Homo sapiens: one gene and its partners. The protein of the gene in region 5 purifies or fractionates together with the protein of the main gene of each other region. This does not show direct contact. Each region holds a gene or a part of one and is shown on either strand. Other genes may lie near its edges. The genes, in order: DPH5, NIT2, SUCLG1, PPA1, CCS, POGLUT3 and ATOX1.

The links.
Region 1: the proteins of CCS (region 5) and DPH5 fractionate together in Homo sapiens (co-fractionation; one large-scale study listed by BioGRID). This does not show direct contact.
Region 2: the proteins of CCS (region 5) and NIT2 fractionate together in Homo sapiens (co-fractionation; one large-scale study listed by BioGRID). This does not show direct contact.
Region 3: the proteins of CCS (region 5) and SUCLG1 fractionate together in Homo sapiens (co-fractionation; one large-scale study listed by BioGRID). This does not show direct contact.
Region 4: the proteins of CCS (region 5) and PPA1 fractionate together in Homo sapiens (co-fractionation; one large-scale study listed by BioGRID). This does not show direct contact.
Region 6: the proteins of CCS (region 5) and POGLUT3 fractionate together in Homo sapiens (co-fractionation; one large-scale study listed by BioGRID). This does not show direct contact.
Region 7: the proteins of CCS (region 5) and ATOX1 fractionate together in Homo sapiens (co-fractionation; one large-scale study listed by BioGRID). This does not show direct contact.

Annotation. Positions count from the first base shown.
Region 1 is NC_000001.11:100,994,785-100,998,284, reverse strand, and holds part of DPH5 (diphthine methyl ester synthase), read left to right. Parts: intron 1-2,206; exon of another isoform or gene 2,207-2,811; intron 2,812-3,135; coding exon 3,136-3,175; intron 3,176-3,500. UniProt on the Homo sapiens protein: S-adenosyl-L-methionine-dependent methyltransferase that catalyzes four methylations of the modified target histidine residue in translation elongation factor 2 (EF-2), to form an intermediate called diphthine methyl ester.
Region 2 is NC_000003.12:100,348,257-100,351,756, forward strand, and holds part of NIT2 (omega-amidase NIT2), read left to right. Parts: intron 1-546; coding exon 547-625; intron 626-3,500. UniProt on the Homo sapiens protein: Has omega-amidase activity. The role of omega-amidase is to remove potentially toxic intermediates by converting 2-oxoglutaramate and 2-oxosuccinamate to biologically useful 2-oxoglutarate and oxaloacetate, respectively.
Region 3 is NC_000002.12:84,428,281-84,431,780, forward strand, and holds part of SUCLG1 (succinate--CoA ligase [ADP/GDP-forming] subunit alpha, mitochondrial precursor), read right to left. Parts: intron 3,380-3,500; coding exon 3,228-3,379; intron 1-3,227. UniProt on the Homo sapiens protein: Succinyl-CoA synthetase functions in the citric acid cycle (TCA), coupling the hydrolysis of succinyl-CoA to the synthesis of either ATP or GTP and thus represents the only step of substrate-level phosphorylation in the TCA.
Region 4 is NC_000010.11:70,223,430-70,226,929, reverse strand, and holds part of PPA1 (inorganic pyrophosphatase), read left to right. Parts: intron 1-3,500.
Region 5 is NC_000011.10:66,599,685-66,603,184, forward strand, and holds part of CCS (copper chaperone for superoxide dismutase), read left to right. Parts: intron 1-804; coding exon 805-865; intron 866-3,500. UniProt on the Homo sapiens protein: Delivers copper to copper zinc superoxide dismutase (SOD1).
Region 6 is NC_000011.10:108,474,385-108,477,884, reverse strand, and holds part of POGLUT3 (protein O-glucosyltransferase 3 isoform 1 precursor), read left to right. Parts: intron 1-173; coding exon 174-278; intron 279-2,932; coding exon 2,933-3,058; 3' UTR 3,059-3,500. UniProt on the Homo sapiens protein: Protein glucosyltransferase that catalyzes the transfer of glucose from UDP-glucose to a serine residue within the consensus sequence peptide C-X-N-T-X-G-S-F-X-C. Can also catalyze the transfer of xylose from UDP-xylose but less efficiently.
Region 7 is NC_000005.10:151,742,322-151,745,476, reverse strand, and holds the end of ATOX1 (copper transport protein ATOX1), read left to right. Parts: intron 1-2,517; 3' UTR 2,518-2,655; downstream 2,656-3,155. UniProt on the Homo sapiens protein: Binds and deliver cytosolic copper to the copper ATPase proteins. May be important in cellular antioxidant defense.

The DNA of each region.
Region 1 (3,500 bases), on a different chromosome or scaffold from region 5:
CCCGTCTCAACCTCCCAAAGTGCTGGGATGATGGGCTTGAGCCACTGCACCCGGCCCCCCTTTTATTCTTGGCATCTAATTAATTATAGATCTAGATTAGGCCATAAACGCTTCTCTAACACATTTTCTTTGGTCTTATGCCAATATTTGCAATCAGCTAGTATGATGTTTTCTTATTTTAGTTTATTGCCAGTGTGATTTAGTGCTTCATTCATCATTAATTATCTTTATAATTTTGTCTTTGAATTTTCCTTGTAAAAAGAGACTGGTCTTACTTTTTTTATAGTCCTTACTAACAAGGACACTGTAAGACTTGTGAGTTGGTGTGGACTATGCCATCAGATATATCCATCTTGTTATCCCAAAGTTAGATCCAGTTAAGGCCAGCTGTGGGTAGAAGGTCAAAGTAGATGACGGGCGAAGGATAATTTTTAAAAGGACTTTTGCTAAAGAAGTAGATGTATCTGAGGGATGAAAAATGGGGATTCATTGGAGCTCAGATACTAGAATATATGTTTTATAACAGTACTGAAAGGTTCTAAAACAGAACAGGGAAGGAAGAATCTGAGAGGCAGGCTACCTGATAACCTCCCCATATATCCATTAAAAATGACAGGAAAGGCCGGGTGCGGTGGCTCACGCCTGTAATCCCAGCACTTTGGGAGGCTGAGGCGGGTGGATCACGAGGTCAGAAGATCGAGACCATCTTGACTAACACGGTGAAACCCCATCTCTACTAAAAATACAAAAAATTAGCCGGGCGTGGTGGCAGGTGCCTGTAATCTCAGCTACTCGGGAGGCTGAGACAAGAGAATGGTGTGAACCCAGGAGGCGGAGCTTGCATTGAGCTGAGATTGCACCACTGCACTCCAGCCTGGACCACAGAGCGAGACTCCTTCTCAAAAGCAAAAAAAAAAGATAGGAAGGAGAGGAAGCAGCACTTATCTTTTCAGAAGCTTTGGAAAGGCAGATAGAAGATCAGTGTACAGGTATTTATTGAGTGCTTACCCTATGCCCCATGTAGAGTTAGTTTCTTTTGGAATACTAAGGAAGTGTAGACGTGGGTCCTGCTCTCAAAGCTTTGAAATCTAGTTTGGAACTAATGTGTTGTGCACGTGAAAGTTTAAAGAACAAAAATTCTATTGTATGGAGAGGCAGGAAGGACAAACTAGAAATGTGGCTCTTGAGTTGTCCTTCTAAGAGCTGCCCCTTTTCTTAGCTTTCCTGGGAAAAGACAAACAAGGTTAAACAATGTATCTTCCTTGCTCCATTAACAAAAGCAGGAAGGAACAGAGTGTGAAGTATAGGATGTCATGATTTCAAATCCTCAAACCATAGTTCTCATCGTTTTATCATCTGGCATTCTCATTATTTAAATTAGTATGTATTTATTCAATGCCTGCTGTGGGTTAAGTTCCATAGGGATTAGTGAGGATAAACCATGGCAGGAAAACACAGAGAATTTAAAATTTACTTAGAAAGACAAGACCAATATATATGATATAATTAGAGGTTAATAAAAGATAGCATTAATTGTGTAGATCTTTCCAAGAACAAAAAGCATTTGAGGAGAAGTCAACAAAGACTTTATGAAGGAGTTAGGACTTACGTTGCCCAGAGAGTGGATAGTTTAATATGGGCTGGTGACTGAGTGGTAGGAGAGTCACTTGAGTAAATTTATTCAGTAGACATTTATGGAGTGTCTTCTGGGTACTTCACATTATGCTAGGTCCTGGTACTAAGATGAATCAGAGAACCTTACATTCTAGCAAGTAGAAATAGAGAGGAATAATTATGGACTGTGTGAAGACAAGGGAAAAGTAATGCGGGGTCTGGCTTGAGACGAAGTCACGAATGCACTCCTTGATTAAAAAGGATTTGCGTCTAAAAATTCTCCTCAACCCTCTTCCTTTTAAAAATCAGATTCTATAGAGCATATTTGAAAAGTAAAGACAACTGAAAATATGAAAAATCTCATCACAACATTTCAGAAGCTCAGAGTGAATGAATTAATAAACGGGTTAAAATTTTTAAAATCTTAGAAACGTAATTTAAAGGAAATCTGAAAGTTGACTAACACCATTGATTATAGGGAGGCCACATTCTTAATAACAGGCATTCGTTTTTTTCTCCATAATGTGACAGACAAGTAGAAATATTAAATAAATAATGATATTTCAAACCTGAAAAAGGCTTTCAATGCTGGTTCCAAGAACATTTAAAAATATGTATTTAATATTAACTCTGCTATAATTTCCAAGCAAACTCTTTGATATCCTTTATAAGAAACACTTCTATAATCACTTAGGAAATCTGCATAAGTCTATTAAAGACTCCTCAGTTGCACTATGTTTATTTTTGCAAAAACAAACTTTGGCTGAACCATTTGTTTTCAGCATGTAAAGCAGGAAGCAGCTGTTGCTGTTGCTGTTGTATACTGAGTTCCTTTGAGGATGTAGAGTGATTCTGCTTTTTTACCTTTTACCAAATAGTTCAGTTGAGCATGAGTGATTAAAAAGTATACCGAATCAAATATTTGTGATGCTTGGACTGTCAAGCTTCTAGAGAGCAGAGTTTATATCTGGTCAGGTCCCTGTGGTATCCCAGTCTCTGACGCAGCGTCTGACACACAGTCCATGCTCAAATCCCTGTTAAAAGCATGAATACTTAGAATTAAAGTATTTATTCAAAATTATGGCATGTGTTAACATTCGTCAGAAAGCAAAAGACTTTTTTAAATGTGGAAAAGATTTTTTTCTACTTACATTACATCTATCAAAGGGCTTTCAGATGGGTCTGTGCAGTTACTAGCTGGTAGAAATGAAAACAAAGATTGTGATTAGCTGTTAGTAGTGTATATGCCAATGTTTATCTAATTCTTTCCCTTGTCTTCTTTTCCAAAAGGAAATTAGATGTTAGCAGGATGGTCTCAGGGCCAAGTTCATGTTTGTTTTCTAACTAGTGGCACAACCACAAGCTTCCATTCTTCTCTATGTTACTGTAAGAAAGTGGCTAATTAAAATGTGAGGGAAGAGTGTTTCCCCAAAATTTAGGTGACTCTTAACTGAGGTTTACACATAGGGTTTTGGATAAAGCTTTTAATTAAATTAAAAGAACTATTTTTACTTCCTACAGACATCAAAGTAAAGGAGCAGTCTTTGGAAAATCTAATCAAGTAAGTTATTATTCTGAGAATGCATACATGTGTTTTATTTCCTTGAACAATTCAATACATTCTACTTAAATGACCTGAGTTCTAAAGATGGTTGAAAATGAGCTCTCATTAACAGTGTGAACATTAAGCATTTTTATTCTTACGAAATGATAAGCAGTATAATAGAGTAGAAATAGCAATATATTTTGTGGATTCAACACTGAGAACAGTGGTTGGCATCTAACAGACACTCAGTGTTTGTGGAATGAATTAATGCGTTGGGATTCTGAAAACATGGGTGTGAGGCCGGGTGCGGTTGTTCATGCCTGTAGTCCCAGCACTTTGG
Region 2 (3,500 bases), on a different chromosome or scaffold from region 5:
TCTCGGAATTGTGCCACTCATTTTTTCACCAAATACGGGTGTTCCAGAAACTATCATGGCACGGGTGGGTGTGTGATTTAGTATGTTAATGAGCTTATAATGAGGATAATGAAGTCCTAGGTGAAACCTAGGTCAAACCCAGCACCATATTGAGTCCACTGGGTCTTAGCCCTAGTTTCTCAGGGTCTTAGCCCCTAGCGTAGGCAGCTATTTCAACAGTTTCTTTTTGCTAGTCATATGAAACTGCTGCCTGGAATTTTCTGTTCTCTTGCGACCGTCCTGTATTATTTCTGTCTCAAAGTCACATGTGATTTTGGTCATCAACACCACTTTTCTTGTGTGTCCATATGTGTGTGACTTACGTGTTCGTATTAAAGGAATTCAGAGCCATATCTTAATTGCTGCTGGCACTGTCTGACTTGGCTGACATCTTTTTATGTTTGGGAAAGTTTGAGTTCAGTTCCTGCTAGATAAGGAACAGTGGGGAGGACTGGTTTTGTTGAGTGCTCACTGCATCCACTGTTCTTTGGCTTTTCTCTCCCCAAGGCTGCCAGCTGTTGGTATATCCAGGAGCTTTTAATCTGACCACTGGACCAGCCCATTGGGAGTTACTTCAGCGAAGCCGGTAAGAAAGGAACCATATATTCAAGCCTCTCGGCATGTCCTCTTTGTAGAAAGATTTCCGGTTGGGTGGAGGTGCCAGCCTTCCTGATGTGGATTCTGTCCCTGACTCAGGATGCCCTTGTATCCAAATGCAGTTGGAAAGGATGAAGCTATAAGGAGGACTTCTACTGCACGTCACTTTCTCCTCAGAAGCCACAATACCAACCTCATGGATTTTGGAAACTGTACTTTTTTTTTTTTTTTTTTCTTTTTAAGAGACGGGTCTTACCATTGCCCAGGCTGGAGTGCAGTGGTGTAATCATAGCTCATTACAGCCTTGAAATCCTGGGCTCAAGAGATCGTCCTGCCTCAGCCTCCTGAGTAGCTGGGACTACAAACATGCGCCACCATGCCTTGCTAATTTTTTATTTTTTGTAGAGATAGAGCCTCACTCTGTTGATCAAGCTGGTCTCAATCTCCTGGCCTCAAGCGATCTTCCCGCCTCAGCTTTTCAAAGTGCTGGGATTACAGGTGTGAGCCCCAAGCCCTGCCGGAACTGTGGTTTTGGCATTTTCAATATTCAGTGTATTAGATGGGAAGGGATTTCATTTTTCTGTGATTAGATGTGGATTGGTCCCTCTTAAGTCAGTTCCAGCAACTTTTACAGAGAAATTGAGAACCACAGAGCTTATGTCTTCAGAGCCCCAGAAGCCAATTAAAAGGCAGGGATTAGTTTAGCTTGACCTAGGGAGAGATTTGTGGTCTGTACCCAGCTGATTCTATGCCATTCAGATCAGGATGCTTATCCTACCCCCTCCTTCACACCATCCTACTAGTCCTGAGGGTACTGTGCCAAGAAACTCATGAGAAGCTCTTGTTCTTCTAACCTATAACTCCAGGGCTTTGCACAAGCATCTTTGGCAGGTCACAGGTGCCTTTCCTTAGTCTTCTAAGGCTGAGAGGTGGTGAAGGGCAAATAGCATAGGTGGACATAAGATGGAAGGGAAAATGAATGTGACTGTGAGTGTGTCTGTCTGTCTGTAAAGTGCTCTACAGCCCATGAAATGCTGGTCTGAGATGATGGTTTTCTTTAGAATTTTTAAAAGTTGAAGTAATACAAAAAAAGTGTACTAATTTTAAGCATAGAGGTTGGTGAATTTTTGTGTATTCACCTGCCACCAAGATGAACATAACAGAACATTTCCAGCCCCCGAGGATGCTCCCTTTTTTGCCCCTTTCTAGTTAGTACTCCTCCCTCTGCCTAGAGGTAGCTGCTGTTCTCACTTCTAGAGATGGTGGTAATGTTTAATGTAAGGGAAAGAGGTTTTAGCTGGTTGCATGGTGGAAGATGGGGGTAGGGGTATAAGATGCCATGAGTATCAGTGAAGGTACAGTTTTGTCAAAAGTGAGAAGTTTCTGGGATACTGAGATGACCCAGCATGGGTCTGTTAAGTCTCGAGGGCTCCGAGGTGAGGTGCTTTGGTGTACCTGGACTGCGAGCTGCAATTTTTGTTCTATTTGAGGTGGTGGGACTGCCACCATGGGCATGGAAGCGCCATGTGGCCTGCAAGGTGTATTGCTCTCATAAGGCCACTCCATTCTCTCCGGCCACCTTGACTTGCTTTAACCAGAGAAGCTCTTCTCTTATGTTAGCTTATAGCAGGCTTTCTCAGCAGTGGCACTGTTGACATTTAGGTGTGTAATTCTTTGTGTGGGGGCTGTCCTGTGCATGGTAGGATGTTTAGCAGCATCTGTGGCCTCTACCTGCTCGATGTCAGTAGCATCTCCTTAGTCACGACAGTCAGGAAGATCTCTAGACATTGTCAAATTTGGTGGGCAACATTGCTCCTTGCTGAGAACCACTGGCTTATGCAGTAAGGTAACTTTGCACAATGTGCAGGTTAGTTACATATGTATACGTGTGCCATGCTGGTGTGCTGCACCCATTAACTCGTCATTTAGCATTAGGTATATCTCCTAAAGCTATCTCTCCCCCCTGCCCCCACCCCACAACAGTCCCCAGAGTGTGATGTTCCCCTTCGTGTGTCCATGTGTTCTCATTGTTCAATTCCCACCTATGAGTGAGAATATGCGGTGTTTGGTTTTTTGTGCTTGCAATAGTTTACTGAGAATGATGATTTCCAATTTCATCCATGTCCCTACAAAGGACATGAACTCATCATTTTTTATGGCTGCATAGTATTCCATGGTGTATATGTGCCACATTTTCTTAATCCAGTCTATCATTGTTGGACATTTGGGTTGGTTCCAAGTCTTTGTTATTGTGAATAGTGCTGCAATAAACATATGTGTGCATGTGTCTTTATAGCAGCATGATTTATAGTCCTTTGGGTATATACCCAGCTACCAATGACTTTCTTCACAGAATTGGAAAAAACTAAAGTTCATATGGAACCAAAAAAGAGCCCGCATCGCCAAGTCAATCCTAAGCCAACAGAACAAAGCTGGAGGCATCACGCTACCTGACTTCAAACTATACTACAAGGCTACAGTAATCAAAACAGCATGGTACTGGTACCAAAACAGAGATATAGATCAATGGAACAGAACAGAGCCCTCAGAAATAACGCCGCATATCTACAACTATCTGATCTTTGACAAACCTGAGAAAAACAAGCAATGGGGAAAGGATTCCCTATTTAATAAATGGTGCTGGGAAAACTGGCTAGCCATATGTAGAAAGCTGAAACTGGATCCCTTCCTTACACTTTATACAAAAGTTAATTCAAGATGGATTAAAGACTTAAACGTTGGACCTAAAACCATAAAAACCCTAGAAGAAAACCTAGGCATTACCATTCAGGACATAGGCATGGGCAAGGACTTCATGTCTAAAACACCAAAAGCAATGACAACAAAAGCCAAAATTGACAAAT
Region 3 (3,500 bases), on a different chromosome or scaffold from region 5:
TGTGCCTTTTACACCCTTCTACTATTAAATTCAGCACACTGGCTATAACCTATTCCCCGTGTGTTCTTCTACTAAACTATGAATTCCCTGAACACAGAGGTTATATTTTCACTAACTTCGGTATGCCTGGCACCTACTGTAGTACCTATGGTATAGAATTAAAAAGAAAAGACTCCACAAATTATTTACTCATTCACTCATAAGATCTACATAGAATATGAGAATCTCATGTTTGAGTGGCATTAATTTGTATTTGATTCCACTCCCCTGTTCCCCAAAAAGTGGGAATATTGTTGCACTAGAAAGGATCAAGACTTTGTTGAGCCTAGAATGGCAAACAAATTTGCATCTGTCCCATTAACAAAGAGCCATTGGAGGCTTATTTGTTTTTGTTTTTTAAGTGGAGAGAACTACAACTAAAAGACTATGGGGAAGTGTAGTCTGAAAATAGGACACAAAAATGATGAAAGGTATGTCTAAAAACAGAAAGGCCAGTTAGAATGCTATCAGTGTAGTCTGAGCCTATGCCCAGGATTGATGACTCTTTGTCCTTAACTCCTTCAATCTGACACCTCATCCTTCCATGGTGAAATGGAGAAGTCAGACAAACCTGGGTATGAATCTCACCCCAGTTCGTTTGCTGTATACCTACCATTGTCAAGTTACTAATCTTCCTGTACCAGTTTTCTCATTCATAAAGAAAGAACAAAAACAACTTACCAAAGCATCAGGATAAAAGTTAAACACCAGAACGTTTGCAAATAATTATCATCATTGTAATGATAACAAGAAAGGCAGCAGCAGATCATGTTTATCGAGTGTTTACACCAAGTATTACACTAGGCATTTTATATAATGCAGCATCTGAACTGCTTAACTTACAATCTTGTACACATTAGGTTCTCAATAAAAATTAATTCCATAACAACTAACCAGGAATAGGAAACATGTTGCCAAATGAAACAAAATGTCTATGTTTCATTTTTCCCACTAAATACTAGGCTATTCCAGGGATTCAGAATTGGGCCCAAATACATTTTAAATTCAACTTAACACAGCACAATGCTGTATTAACCGAAACTTTTTTTTTTAAAGAAGTCAGTTTTTACTTATATTTCAAACTGTACAACTTTCTGAACACAAGGGAATCTAACATTTTACTCCAATCCTTAACAATCTACTCTTCCATTTACATGACCTGTATTGGTGCCCACTGTGCCAGGGGACTGGGCAGGGCACTGAAGTTAACAGTTCCCTGCAGTCCATAACACAGTCTAGAGTGAAAGTCAGATACTAAGCATTCCTTGCAGAAGGAACAAGCAAAGGCAAGTGAGAATGAAAACTGGCATGTCAGATGGAAAACTGATCTAAAAGGGAAGGTTTGGATGGTATGTGAAGGACTGGAATACCATGCTAAATCTGCCTTTAGCTGACATGTAATGGGAAACATTACATGGGAAACACTGTCTGATGTGAACCAAGGACAAACAGCACCAATACCCATGTTTCAGAAGGGCAGATAATTTGGGTGGCCATAAACAGAATGGCCTAAGAGTAAAGGGGGGTGGTTGGAGAAAATAAGAGAGATCAAGAAGGAAACCACTGAGATGGTCCAGATGAGATGGGATGAGGACCCAAACCAAAGTAGATGGACTAAGTACAGACAAGGCTCTGAATCCAGACAAACCTCTGATGTCTCAGAGACAGATCTTGGTAACTGAGTAGAAACAGGATAAGAGAGAAATAAAAGTTAGTTCTCAGGTTTCTGCCATAGAAATAGGCACAGAAAATAGATCCAGGGAATGATAAAGAGGAGGAAAACCAGAAAGAAACCAAGAGGATGGAGAGGATGACGAATGAATCAAGGCCACTGGTGACCTCTGTGCAAACACAATGTCAGGAGAGTAAGAAGATTCCACAGCAGCCAGTGGCTCAGTAAGAGTGCTTACTAAGTGCCGGGCACTACTTTGCTATACGTTACTAAGTCATTTAAACTTCGCAGTCCTTACAATAACTCTAGGAGGCAGGCACTACTATATCGTCATTTTTCCAATAAGGAACCTGAGGCAACGAGAGATTAAGCATTCCCAAGGTCATATAGCTTCTAAGTGACAGACAGGAGCCTGATTGCTGAGGATTCAAGAATGAATGAAAAGTAAGGAAAGAGAATGAGAGAATGAGGGTAAACCTGAGTCATATCTAATATGGGAGTTAGGGCTTAAAATCACCACAAAAGAAAATCAAGTATATTCAAAATAGCCCTTGAAAATTCCTTAAAACACAAATAAATATGCCTTGTTTTGTGTAAACCACCCTGTACATGATATTATTGGTTCCTTTAACTCTCCAGTATTATTTTATGTGGCATTTAATTCATTCACTGGTGGATTTTTTTCATACATATAGAGAGAAAGTGATCTCCACTCTCTTGCCTGGTCCCCTGAAGAAAAATTTTCACTCATTCCTCAGTATAAGAGAAATTCTGAAAATCAGTTGCTTGATTTTTTTCCCACAGTTCTCTGACACAACAATGGCCACAGCACAAATTCACTGAGTGGGGGCTGGTGGCCACCACACTGCTTCAGTCACTACCGCACCCCCATCTCTCCTTTCACCACAGGAACAGGGCTTAACTCCCTCAAGCTGAATGAAATGATGACATAACTCAACACTACTCCTTTACATTTAATTCTAAGTGAGAAGCAACAAGGAAAGCCTCCCCAGGACATAGACAGTAAAGCTTTTCTACTTGATCTCTGAAGGGAAGTGCCATTCCACAAGGAAAGTCTAAAACTGGAAGGAAGCCAGAGCCTGAAAAAAAGCACAAGGGATAGGATCTTTAGGTCAGCCTTGAAAAAGAGAAAAAACCACTTATTTCCCTCTGAGATCGGGAGAAAGAATACTGGTCACAGGTGAAAACCAAGTCTGCAGGTCAAGTGCGGGCTCTCGGGCTGATGGCCTGAATGTATCTGTTCAGCAGGAGAACGACTTACCTACCACAAAGTGTGGGGTGATGCCTGGGGAGGAGAGTTCAGAATAGAGAAGCAGAGAATCAACCCAGAAATAATACAGAATTGTCTGAGTGTCCAGTATAGAAGGCCCTGCTCAGAAAGTTTTATCTTTCATGTTTTCTCAAAAAATTCACCTTTGAAAAAATAAAAATAACTTCTGAAACAAGCCTCTGATATTAAGAGCAAAGAGCTATGTTTTTCCAAACCCAAACTTACTGAATTATGTTGCTTCAAAAATTCTGCAGCATTCTCTTCTGCATTACCACCAATTTCACCAATCAATATGATGCCTTCTGTGGCAGAATCGTTCAAAAAGATTTCGAGGCAGTCAATAAAATCTGTTCCATTAAAAGGATCACCTCCAATGCCTGAAAAAGTTGAAAAATATCAATAGCTGGAAATTTAAGGGTGAACCATGGAATTTAGGTCAATAAATGTTTTTAACTAGTTTGTCATTTTTCTTACCCTTCTCTCTTATATTTTTAAATG
Region 4 (3,500 bases), on a different chromosome or scaffold from region 5:
TTTTTTTCAGGTGATTGTTGGGAGCGTATAGAAGCATATATAAATATGGAATATGTGTTTCTTTTTTCCCCTTCTGAAAGAAAGTCAAGCCTCTAATCAAATAGATTGATGCTTCAGAAACTTAACAGAATATTATCTGCAATTTGGCATAAATGCATTTTTCTTGGGGAAGTTTCCACGCTCAAAATTATTAGTCATTGCAAAACAGAAAAGTTTGACAACTGGAAATGCAGACCCTTTTGCTTGATTTTGTAAAGACAGGAAAATAAACAGATTATGCTTAGAATATCTGTTTTCAAAATTTAGTCATCATAAAGCTTATCTGAAAAGAAAAAATAGCAAAAATAGCAGCTTTTTCTTTCTTTTTCTTTTTTTTTTTAAGACAGGGTCTCACTCTGTCACCCATGCAGTGCTGTGATCTTGGCTCACTGCAGGCTCCATCTCCTGGGCTCGAGCAATCCTCCCACCTCAGTCTCCTGAGTAGCTGGGACTACAGGCACACACCACCGTACCTGGCTAATTTTTTTGTATTGGTAGAGACAGGCTTTCGCTGGTCTCGAACTCCTGAGCTCAAACAGTCCACCCACCTCAGCTCCCAAAGTGCTGGGATTACAGGTGTGCGCTCCCACACCCAGCCAGCAGCTTATTCTTAATTATGACATGACAAATTAAGTTATTGCTCTACACAGGTACATATGGTAGTGTGTAGTAGCAAATACAGGCATTTGTTTGAGCTGCAATGAGTAGAAAATCTATGTAACTGGAAAACAAATGAGTATTACTAAAAGTTTTGTGTGTATGTGTTTTAATTTCTTTACTTTAATAAGTTAATGATCTCCCTTGGAATCTTAACACAATTTGTTGAACAAATGTTTTTTGGGTTGGTGTAAGTCATGTCTTTCTTTGCTAAGTCACAATTCTAAGTGAATAAGGGGCACAACAGTGTGAACTTCGGTCATCGTATTTCTTTCTGATAGCTTCTCAAATAGACTTCTGTCACTTTCGATGAAATACTTCAGGTATCCATATACTTTTAACAACTTAGAGTATATCCTTCTAGAATCATATAACCAACTTTACAGCCAAAACTTAGAATTAAGAGCCATTGTCATTTGGTGAGCAGTGAATAAGATAAAGTATTCTTGGAAATGGTGAAATCTGGTATACCTTTTCGAAAGCATCTTTATGGGGATGGAACATTTTCTTTTAACTACGTGAGCTCTTCTGATAGGGATTTTATACTCCAAAACTAGTCTATAAGTTCCAAAAAAAAAAAAAAAGTTAAAGCTTGGTTTGGATTAGTTTCTTGCTTTATGTTTATGCTCTAGATAAATTTAGAAGAAAATTCTCTCTACCTCTACTGTTTTTTCTCCAAATTTTATTGCAAAACAATAAAGATTAAAAAATGGGGGGTGGGCTGGGTGCCGTGGCTTATGCCCGTAATTCTAGCACTCTGGGCAGCCTAGGTGGACGAATTGCTTGAGCTCAGGAGTTCATGACCAGCCTCAGCAACATGGTGAAACCCGGTCTTTACCAAAAATAGAAAAAAAAAAATTAGCTGGGTGTGGTGGCAGGTGCCTGTGGTCCAGGAGGCAGAGGTAGGAGGATCACTTGAGCCCCGGAGACGGAGGTTGCAGTGAGCTGAGATCATGCCACTGCACTTCAGCCTGGGTGACAGGTGAGACTCTGTCTCTAAATAAATAAATAAATAAATAAGAGTGGTGGGACCACAGGGTGATTTTTGTGTTTCTTTCTAAGCCTGGTATTTACTAGATTTCTGAAGTTATCTAGAGAAACACACAATGAGTCAACTTGAAAATGCTAATGTCAGCCACTTGGTATAATTCTGTAGTATAGTTCATCGAATTTACCAAATCCAGGGTTAGAAATAAATCTCAATGCTGGGCGCGGTGGCTCATGCCTGTAATCCCAACACTTTGGGGGGCCAAGGTGGGCGGATCACCTGAGGTCGGGAGCTCGAGACCAGCCTGACCAACATGGAGAAACCCTGTCTCTACTAAAAATACAAAAATTAGCTGGGCATGGTGGTGCATGCCTGTAATCCCAGCTACTCGGGAGGCTGAGGCAGGAGAATTGCTTGAACCCGGGAGACGGAGGTTGCAGTGAGCCGAGATTGCACCATTGTGCTCCAGCCTGGGTAACAAGAGCGAAACTCTGTCTCAAAAAATAAAATAAAATAAATAAATAAGAAATAAGTCTCAATAAAGACACATTGAACTTAACTGCTAGGATTTAAAGACGTGCTGTAATTAAATTAAGAGCATGTTCCCTATATATGTACTTAACTGCATTAGTAATAACAGCCTACCAAATGGCCGTAGCCTATTTATTAGTAAACAACTTGTCAGACTACTGACTTGGTCCATAAGACCCTAACCAGTTTGGAGATGAGACGGGGCCTCACCATACTACTGTGATTAATATTCCTGTTTAATTAGTGAAGTTACACACCTAACCAAGATATAGGAGATATTTCTTCTATTCCTGAAACATTTTTATTTTAAATATTTTTGATTAATGGAGTGACATAATGTAGAGTTGTTGAGTTTCCAGTTTCCTTAGAATCTGGACATCTTTAATGTTTTGTTGTAACATCTTGACTACTTGATAAAATGATTGTAAATCTGGGAAGGGAAATAGACTTTTTTTTTTTTTTTTTTTTGTAGAGACAGGGTCTGTCTATGTTGCTCAGGCTGGTCTTGAACTCCTAGTCTAAGCAATCCTCTTGCCTCAGCCTCCCAAAGTGCTAGGTTTACAGGCACGAGCCACCATACCTGGCCTGAAATAGACAGTTATATTTCTGACTTTGGGAACAAGAGCTAAAGTTATAGTTTGCCTTTTCCCTTATCCCCCACTGGTTTATCAGCAAGGTAATTATTGAGTTTATCAAAATCATCCCTCTAGGGAGACTTAACTTCCTTCTTTTCTGAAACTGTTAACAGAGAGCTGAGAGCTCTGATGCCAGAGCAATGACTGAGACTCCAAAGCATGGTAGGATTGGAGGATGGAGTTCTGGGAAGTCCTAACAGTGGGAGTAACAAGATAGTAAATCCAAGATCCAGCTAAGTAAAAGCTGAAACCAGTTGGGATTAAAGAAGAAGGAATGAATTTGTAACTGGGTAGTACGAAATTTCTTAAAATCAGTATTTTTTAAGTGCGTGAATATTGGAATCATTAGAATGCATAAAAACAGTAATAGTTTTTATAGCAACTCTGTTGCTATAAAATTCATTGAATTTCTCATATCAGTTGCCCTGAAAAATCCTAAATATCACTGTTGTTCACCTAGTAGCAACTCTTTGAATTGTAGCCAGATGTCTAGAAGAAGGTTGTTCTTTAGTAGTAATTCCTGCTAAAGTATGTGGAACACCCCCTCCTTACAAGTACAGAGCTGGGCAGGATGGCTTGCACCTGTAGTCCCAGCTACTAGGGATGCATAGGCAGGAGGATCACTTGAGGCTAGGAATTAGAGACCAGCC
Region 5 (3,500 bases):
ACACTGGGCCCTCACCAATACTCTGTGAGGCACATACACACAGGCACAACCTCCAGATGAGGAAACTGAGGCTCACAGAGGTTAAATGACTTGCCAAAGGTCCACAGCAGGTAAAAGGTAGAGTTGGGGTTTGAGTCAAGATCTGACCTTGGCTGGGCACAGTAGCTCACACCTGTAATCTAGCACTTTGGGAGGCTGAGGTGGGCGGATCACCTGAGGTCAGGAGTTCAAGACCAGCCTGGCCAACATGGTGAAACCCCATCTCTACTAACAATACAAAAAAAAATTAGCCAGGTGCAGTGGCATGTGCCCATAATCCCAGCTACTAGGGAGGCCCGTAATCTCCTGAGGCAGGAGAATCACTTGAACTCAGGAGGTGGAGGTTGTGGTGAGCTGAGATTGCACCACGGCACTCCAGCTCAGGGGTGACAGGGCAAAACTCTGTCTCAAGAAAAAAAATAAAATCTGATCTTGAAGGTCCTGCTTATAACCACCTTACTGCCTCTGAGATGGAAGGGGACTTCTGGACACAGCAAAGGAAGGGTCCCCATGCCATGGTGTTTGTCATGCTGTGATATAACTAGTTGTTTACTCATCTGTGAGTCCCCTGAGCCAGAAGCTTATTCAGGACAGGACCCATGTCTGATTCTTCTCGGTGCCCTCTACCCAAAGCCCAGCACAGAGTAGGCCTGTTTGTTGAATGAATGAATGAATGAATGAATGAAGCAAATATAAATAGATGAGAGGGTAGAGCACCTGGCCTGTGAGCTGCTTTCCTGCCCACCTGTTTCCTTTCTTTCTTAGCTGTGGGAATCACTTTAACCCTGATGGAGCATCTCATGGGGGCCCCCAGGACTCTGACCGGGTAAGTGTCTGTCTGGGTTTGGGCTTGGGCTGAGAGAGGACCCAAAGTCTCAGAGGCAGGGCAGGCAGCTCTTGGGATCATAACAGTGTGATTCCTTTTTGGTGGAGTCTTTTCCTCTCATTTTATTTTGCTGAGTTTGGAAACATTTGTTGACACTTTCTGTGATCAAGGCCCAGGGGATACAATAGATTACAGCCCCAGTGCCTGACCCAAGGAGCACACAGTCTCTGGGGGAGATTACTGAATTCCATGGTTTCCAGGCAGTGAGATCATCCTTGCAGGAGCCTGCAAGAGGTCCTGGAGCCCACAGTGAATAGTTCATCTGCCTGAGGGGCAGGGGCAGTGGGAGGAAGTGAAATATGGAAGTTGAGGGTTTTACCTAAACTGAAAAGGCTGTCCCTGGTGTTCCCTAACACCCCGGTCCTGGAGTTTCATTTTTCAGCAGAGAATCATTTCCCAATCTTCAGGGAATTGTGTGTTGCCTTAATGATTTTTGCCTTATCTGAGTACTAGTTGTATTTTTAGTTACTCAATCATTTGGTTTTTTTATTTTATTTTCTGAGATGGAGTTTTGTTCTTATTGCCCAGGCTAGAGTGCAATGGCGCAGTCCCAGCTCATTGCAACCTCCGCCTCCCAAGTTCAAACGATTCTCCTGCCTCAGCCTCCCTAATAGCTGGGACTACAGGTGCACACCACCACACCCGGGTAATTTTTGTATTTTTAGTAGAGATGGGGTTTCACCAGGTTGGCCAGGCAGTCTTGAACTCCTGACCTCAAGTGATCCACCCACCTCAGCCTCCCAAAGTGCTGGGATTACAGGCGTGAGCCACTGTGCCCGGCTCTGACTGGGCTATTTTCTATCTTGATGGGTTTGCAACCTTGTGCCACAAAACAATTGAAACCATGGTATGTGTTGCTTAATGCATGTTACTGATTTTTTGGACTTTTCACAGCTCTGTTACCTATCATGCTTTTCTTTTCTTCTGTTTCTTTTCCTTTTCCTTTCTCCCCTCCCCTCCCCTCCCCTCTCCTTTCCGAGATAGGATCTCACTCTGTTGCCCATGCTGGAGTGCAGTGCTGTGATCATGGCTCACTACAGCCTTGAACTCATGGGCTCAAGCAATCCTCCCACCTCACCTGATAGCTGGGACCACAAGCATGTACCATTATGCCCAGCTAATTTTTTTTTTTTGTTTTTTTGGTGGTAGAAATAGGGTGTCACTATGTTCCTCAGGCTGGTCTCAAACTGCTGGGCTTGAGCAGACCTCCCTCCTCGGCCTCCCAGTGTTAGGATTATGAGCATGAGCCAGCATGCCTGGCCTCTGCCACATTTTTTTTTTTTCTTTTTCTTTTTTTTATTTTTAGTAGAAACGAGGTTTTGCCATGTTGGCCAGGCTGGTCTTGAAGTCCCAACCTCAAGTGATCCGCCTGCCTTGGCCTCCCAAAGTGCTGGGATTACAGGCATGAGCCACTGTGCCCAACCACCCTGTCACATTTCTAATGATCAAAAGTTTTTACTCCCTGTTCTGGGAAATTGGAGAGGCATTTCTTATAGAGTCCATTGCACAGTGCCATGCTTATGCTCAGTGATTAGTAATCTGCTGCTGCAAATCAAATGACTCCAAAGTTAGGAGTTTAAAACAACAAACATATACTGTCTCTGGGGCAGGAATTTGTGTGTGACTTAGCTGGGTGCCTGCAGCTCAGGGTCTCTCTCGGGGCTGCAGTCATCTCAGGGCCCCACGTGGGGAGAATCTGCTTCCAGGTTTGCTCATGTTGCTGTTGGCAGGCCCCAGGTCCTCCTTGGCTGTTGGCCAGAGACATCAGTTCTTTGCCACATGGGTCTCTCCCTAGGGCAGCTAACAACACGGCAGTTGGCTTCTCTCAGAGTGAATGAGCGAGAGAGAGAGAGATTGAGATTGAGAGAGGGCGTCCAAGACTCAAGCCACATTCTTTTTGTAACCTAATCTTAGAAGTGACACTAGGTCCAGCCCACACTCAAGGGAGGCACATCATAGAGGCCATTCGCCTCATGCAGCCTTGAAAGATGATGGGCAGGAAGTAGGCATTGAAGAGGGTAAGAGTGGGATTGGCAAGCCCAGCAAAAGAAACTGCCCGGGCAAAGCCCTCAAGGCATGGAATGGCAGGGAGTGTTTCTGAAGGGCAGGAGCCTGTCTTGTGACCTGTGTTTTCTTCCTGGGCCCCAGGTGGGGCAGGGAATCAGAAGGGGCTGGCATCAGCAGCTGTACCTCACCCAATCCCTTAACTTAGACAAGGAAGAACTGAGCAGGAGCTGACCAGCCAAGGCCACGGTGACTGGCAAGTTGCTGTTGGGTTTTAGCATCTGCTTTTCCCAGGTGGAAAAGAATTCCATGTGGGAATTTGCATTCAAGCCTGGTTGTCCCTTGCACATCTCCTAACTGATCTCTAAGCTCCCTTCTGTTCTCTCCTCACCCTGCTCCAGTCTTTACTTTTCATAGACTGCACTAGAAGGATTGTTCTGAAGCCTGGAGTAACCAGGCCATGCCCCTGCCTGAAACTTGTCTTGGCTCCCAGTGCCTGAGAGTACAAGCTGGGCCTAGCTTCTTGATGTGGACATTCAATACCCCACTCCCCCTGCCTATTGCCCCTGCC
Region 6 (3,500 bases), about 42 Mb from region 5:
GAGCCACCATGTCCGGCCCCTGTAGCCTCATTCTTAAGTTATAATTCCATTATGTTCTGGCTTTCCCATGCTGTTCACTTTCAACCCCACATCTGTCCCACCTCACACTTAACCCTCTCTTTGTGGGTCGCAGTAGTAATTTTCATTCATTTTTATTTTTTTTAACCTTTCAGGAAAATGATGAAGAAGCCAAGAAGATTGCAAAAGAAGGACAGTTGATGGCTAGGGACCTACTACAGCCACACAGGCTTTACTGCTACTATTACCAAGTACTGCAGGTCAGTTCAGAGTGTCCGTCCACACTGCTGGGTCGGGTGTCCTCAGACTACCCGCTTGGCCTGTACACTTCCTGCCTGGCTTCCTGAAGGACTCACAGTCAAGCCTATGGACCACTGGCTAAGCCAAGGCACTTGCCTAGGGAAAGATAGTGCTAAGTCTTCATTTGGTGGCCCCCTTTTTTTTGTTTTTTGTTTGTTTGTTTGTTTTGAGATGAAGTCTCACTCTGTCATGCAGGCTGGAGTGCAGTGTCTCAATCTCAGCTCACTGCAGCCTCTGCCTTCCAGGTTCAAGCAATTCTGCCTCAGACTCCCAAGTAGCTGGGATTACAGGTACACGCCACCATGCCCAGCTAATTTTTGTATTTTTAGTAGAAACGGAGTTTCGCCATGTTGGCCAGGCTGGTCTTGAACTCCTGGCCTCAGGTGATCTGCCTTGCCTTGGCCTCCTGAAGTGCTGGGATACAGGTGTGAGCCACCACGCCCAGCCGTGGCCTCCATATTTTCATCTTTATTCCATATTATGTAAAACGACGCTGGGAGCCCTCACAAATATAGATTAGCAACTCCTCCCATCTTCTCAGTGCTCTCTTTTATTAAATGCTTTATTGAATTCCTAGTGTAGGTGTTCTGGAACCTCAGAGAAAAACATTTTTTCTTATTTGGAAAACAAGATGGTTGGACTGGAGATCATTAACATCCCTTTTTACTCAAAATGTCGCCTCCTTATTCTCCTTGATACTTAAGATTCATGCCTTTTATAGTACAAGGCAGAATGCAAATATTTAGCTTGCTGTAGCAAACAAACTAATGAGAAATATGTATAACAGTTCTAACACCTTAGGGCTGAATCCTGAAGTATAGTGTTTATTGGGAATCCGAGGATTGGTCTTTTGAGTAACTACCTTGAGTTTTACTCAGAAAAATCTAGACAGGAAGAATAAAAAAAGGAAATTATGTTCTTGTTTTTAACCTAAATTTATTTTTCTGTAGGCATAGTAAAAGTAAATTTCCCTAGATGCTTGTGGATACTACCCTCTCATATTTTCATTTTCATAGAAAAATAAAAATGATAAGTTACACTATTTACTAGAAGCAGCCCTTCCTTCCCTTAAATTGGTCTGTCCCCTCTGTTGGTCTAGCTTTAATCGTTAAACAGTTTTTTTAACAATTTCTTGGCCGGGTGCAGTGGCTCACACCTGTAATCCCAGCACTTTGGGAGGTCGAGGAGGGTGGATCACCTGAGGTCAGGAGTTCAAGACCAGCCTGGCCATCATGGTCAAACCCCGTCTCTACTAAAAATACAAAATTAGCCAGGTGTGGTGGCACATGCCTGTAATCTCAACTACTCAGGAGGCTGAGGCAGGAGAATCGCTTGAACCTGGGAGGCAGAGGTTGCAGTGAGCCTAGATTGCACCACTGCACTCCAGCCTGGGCAACAAGAGCAAAATGCATCTAAAAATATATATATTTCTTACTCGGTCACCTAGGCTGGAGTGCAGTGGCATGATCACAGCTTACTGCAGCCTCAACCTCCTAGGATCAAGCGATTCTTCCCCCCTCCCACCTCAGCCTCCCACTAGTAGCTGGGACTACACCACCACACTCAGCTAATTTATTTATTTTTTTTAGAAACAAGCTCTTGCCGTGTTTCCCTGGTTCCTCAAGTGATTCTCCAGCCTCAGCCTCCCAAATAGTTTCAATTTTAATGTTAGGAATTTCTCTCTCTAAAATATTAATTAGGCTTATCTACTGTGTCAACATTTTGTTGCATTTGGTCCAGTACCAGGAATATACAGCAAAAGGGACATGGAATCATTGAATTGAAATATCCAATTTATGTCTGGGCAGGGTGGCTCATGCCTGTAGTCCCAGCACTTTGGGAGGCTGAGGTAGGCAGATTGCTTGAGTCCAGGAGTTGAAGACCAGGCTGTGCAACATGGTGAAACGCCATCTCTACAAAAAATGAAAAAAATTAGCTGGGCATGGTGGTACGCGCCTGTAGTCCCAGCTACTTAGGAGACTGAGGTGTAAGGATCACTTGAGCCTAGGATGTTGGAGGCTGCAGTGAGCCAAGATCACGCCACTGCACTCCAGCCTCAGTGACAGAGTAAGACCGTGTCTCAAAAAAAAAAAAAAACAAAAACAAAAAAAACTCCATTTATAGAAATATTTCACTCAGGGCCACAGTGGAGGAACATTACACAGACCTGTTGCCATTCAAAAATGCGTGTGACTATAGGCCTAAAAGAAAGAATGTGTGAGACTGCCAACTTTTCAGATGGTTATCTTGTTTGTTTGCTGGCTTGAGTATTCAACAAAGTTAATTATTCAATAACAAGTGGAAAATAAATGCTGAGAGCTGCTGTTTGTTTCAGGTAGGGACGTCTGGCTTGGCATCCCTTTTGTAGAGGCTTCCAACCAACACATAAAATTGTGGATTGGGGTTTCTTGCTAGATTATGAATTATAACTAGTGCCTGTGATAGCTAAAGTTAAAATGTAACTTTAGGACTGGAATAAACCAGACCTTTGGTTTTAGTCTGCAGACACACAGCAACTAGAAAAGATGGCGTGACTGCGGATGGGAGTGGGTGGGGGAGTCAACAGAATGCAGTGTGAACTAACCTTTCAGTTCCCTTTAAACCCACGTTTCAGAAATATGCCGAGCGCCAGTCCAGCAAACCCGAAGTACGTGATGGAATGGAACTTGTTCCTCAGCCAGAAGATAGCACAGCCATCTGCCAGTGCCACAGGAAAAAGCCTTCAAGAGAAGAACTTTGAGTCAGCCCAGAATCACACTCCTGTGTATCCCGGCTACACTTTAAGGAAAGATTGAATCTAAGCTGTGAAGGACAGTATAGAAGACTGCACCAAGTGGACTAGTTCTCCCGGTGGCTTTATATATGTAGATGGATATAGCAGTACTGGTTGAGTATCCCTCATCTGAAATGCTTAGGACCAGGAGTGTTTCAGGCTTCAGATTTTTTAAGATTTGGGAATATTTGCATGTACATAATGAGGTATCTTGGGGATGAGATCCAAGTCTAAACACAAAATTCATTTATATTTTATATATACCTTGTTCACATACCCTGAAGGTAATTTTATATAATATTTTTAATAATTTGTGCATGAAACAAAGTTTGTATACATTGAACTGTCAGAAAGCAAAGGTGTCACTATCTTAGCGACCCAAGTGGTGGTGTCAGCACTCAAAAAGTTT
Region 7 (3,155 bases), on a different chromosome or scaffold from region 5:
CACTCCTGGCTGCCACTGCCCATGTAGTGCATTTGACTCGTGAATTACAATGATCGCCACACCTCTGATGTGGTTTGGTGCCCTGACGTGACTGAGAAAAATGAGGCCAAGAGAGGGGAAGTGATTCAACCAGAGTCCCACCCTGGTGAGTAGCAGAGGCAGGAAGAAAGTCAGATATCCTGAATCGGAGTTCTGTAACTGTTACTGGTGGCATTGTCCCTGTGAATGGGCCCACAGAGACCCCCTGGACAGAGGCTAGCCACACTGACTGGTAGGTCCTCTTTGAGGATAGCCTCCTTCCCAAAGGCATACATTTGGAACCTGAGTCATAGCAGTGTTCTGTGTATGTGGTAACATCACATGCAAGTTACAAGATGTCAGATGCATCTGTTTTCGTCATGCACTTTCCATCCATAGATAGAACCCATATTCAGGAATGAACCCAGGATGAATAATGAGGAATCTAGGATTCTAATTCCAACTTTCCTCATTTCACACTGACTTTGGGGACTTTTTACATTACAGAGATTTGGTCTTCCCATCGGTAAAATGGGGCTAAAACCTCCAACCTGCTTTCCTGCCTTGTGGGGACTGCTGTGCAATCTCTCCACATATGAAAGTTTATCCTCTAGGGAAGTAAAACATCAGCGGTTTCCAGCATGTTGAAGAACAGTGTTTCTTACATCATTCCTCCACCCCTAGGGTTTTGTAGGGAGGGTGAGTGGATGGGGCTTTGGACCCTCCATAGCTCCCAAACGGTCCTGTGTCATATTGGGCTTCCCGTAAGACTGTATTTTATAAAAACGCTCTGTAACAAGAAGGAATGGAGGCAGAGAAGGAAAAAAATACTCTTCCTGAACTAGCTATATACATGGGGAGCCCTAATGCACACATCTTGGATTAGAAACTCCAGGCCTGGGCATACGAACTTTTTTAACTAAAAAAGTAATATCTGTTGGATGTAAACCATGTGTAGCTTAATGTGTTTTTCTCATAGAAAACATGTTTTCTCATGTTATTTTATTGAGATGAAATTCACAAGACATAATAACTATTTTAACCCATTTATGCTGAATATTGCAAAGTTTTTTATGTGAAAAATCAAACCTTGGTGATGACCTTGAACAGTAGGATATAAATAACTCCTGCAAGCTTAGCGTTCCAATAATGGAACACTAGGCATAAATGGGTTAAAGTCTATCATTTAGTGGCATTTGGTGTGTTCACAATGTTGTATGACCACCATCTCTCTCTAGTTTCAAAATTTTTTCATCATCTCAGAAACACACCCTGTATCCATTAAGAAGTCACTCCCCACTACCCATCTCTCCATCCCCTGGCAGCCACTAATTTGCTTTCTGCTACTCTGGATTTGCCTACCCTGGACATGTCATATAAAAAGAATTACATTATATGTGACCTTTTTGTGTCTGCCTTTTTCCATGTAGCATAATGTTTTCAAGATTCATTCAAGTCATAGCATGTGTTGTAAATCATTCCTTCCAATACTTAATAATTTTCATGGTACTTTTAATCTACTTTAGATTTTTTATGATAGGAAGTTTCAAACATGTGTAAGTAGAGTAATAGAATGAATCCCCAAGTACCCGTCACTCAGATCCAACAGTTAGTATTTATTTCACCAAGGCCTGTTATTTTTTGATAAAAGTGCTCTGTGACAAGAAGGAATTAAGGAAGAGAAGGAAAAAAACTCTTCTGGAGCTATCTGTATCCATGTGGGGGAGCCCTAATGCACACATCTTGGATTAGAAACTCCACTGTCCTCATTGTTTCATCTGGGTGATGAAACACCCAGATTATTTTGAAGCAAATTCTAGACATCATGCCCACTCCCTCCTGCCCAGATTATTTTGAAGCAAATTCTAGACATCATGCAATCTTACCTGTACATATTTCAGTAACCATGTATTGTTTGGAAAGGCTCCTGGAAATTCAGATGCACAGTACTCAGTAAGAATCACCCAATAAGCCAGCTTTAGTCCACATGCTCAGGCAGCATGTCTTTGAAGTCTGTTTTAAGAGGCTCCTCAGTGACTGATTTGAAGCCAGGCTTGGGAACCTCAAAGATAGAGTGTTTATTGGTTTTGAAGTCACCTTGATCATCTGACTCTTGGCAGATTTATTTGCCATGATTTTGTTCATTGCCTTTCCAACCTGTAACAGGATAGAGAGTGCTGTTGACTGGGTATCCTGGCAGCCCTGGAAATTCCCCAGAAGAGGGCTTTGGCAGTGATTGGCTTAGCAAGGTTAATGCGTTCCAGCCAACCTAAGTATAACAGACTTCATGGGAGCAGTGTGCAGGGCTGGACACTGGGGCTCTAGTCCTGCTCCTGCATCTGCACCCTGCGTTTTCCACCTCACCCCTGCCTTTTAGTGCAAGACTCTTAGTGCACCCCTGCGTCACCCCTGTCTCTTAGTGCATTTATTGCCTTTGCAATGTCGCTATGTCCACACCAGATGGCACCTTTGTTCCATCTAACTTTCCATCTTTCCTAGGATGCTGATCCTCCCGCTGGCTTCCAGACAGACCTGGGACTTGGCAGTCATGCCGGGTGATGGTGTTCCTGCGGAGACCCTCAGTTGTCCTATTCCTTCCTAGCTTCCCTGCAATAAAATCAAGCTGCTTTTGTTGGAGATGTTGTCTTGCCTGGTCTTGGTGTTGCTTGCTCACATGTAGGTGGTTATGCTTACTTGGGTTGGAGTTTTGAGAGTTCCCACCTGGGAGTCAGACACCCTGTAGATTCTGATTCTTTGCTGTGTGATCTTTAGCAAATCACTTCCCCTCTCTGGGCCTCATTTTTTCCTCACCTATAAAGTGGAGGCATTGACCCAGAACAGTGATCCCCTTTCTTTTCACCAGTTTCATAGACTCTATATTTTGAAAAAATTTGTCTATCAAGTGAATTGCACAAGAGATTATCAAATGTTAAGCAAGTGGAATAGTAGGAAGAGGCTGTGGAGACAAACTGCCTGGGATAGAGTTCAAGCTCCAGTACCTCCTAGCTGGGCCACTTAACCTCTCAGTGTCCACAGACAAAATGTGATGATAGCATCTACTGCAAATGGTGGTTGTGGGGATTAAATGAAATGAAACATGTAAATTAATTACAGCAGTGATTGCTGGTTAAAAAATC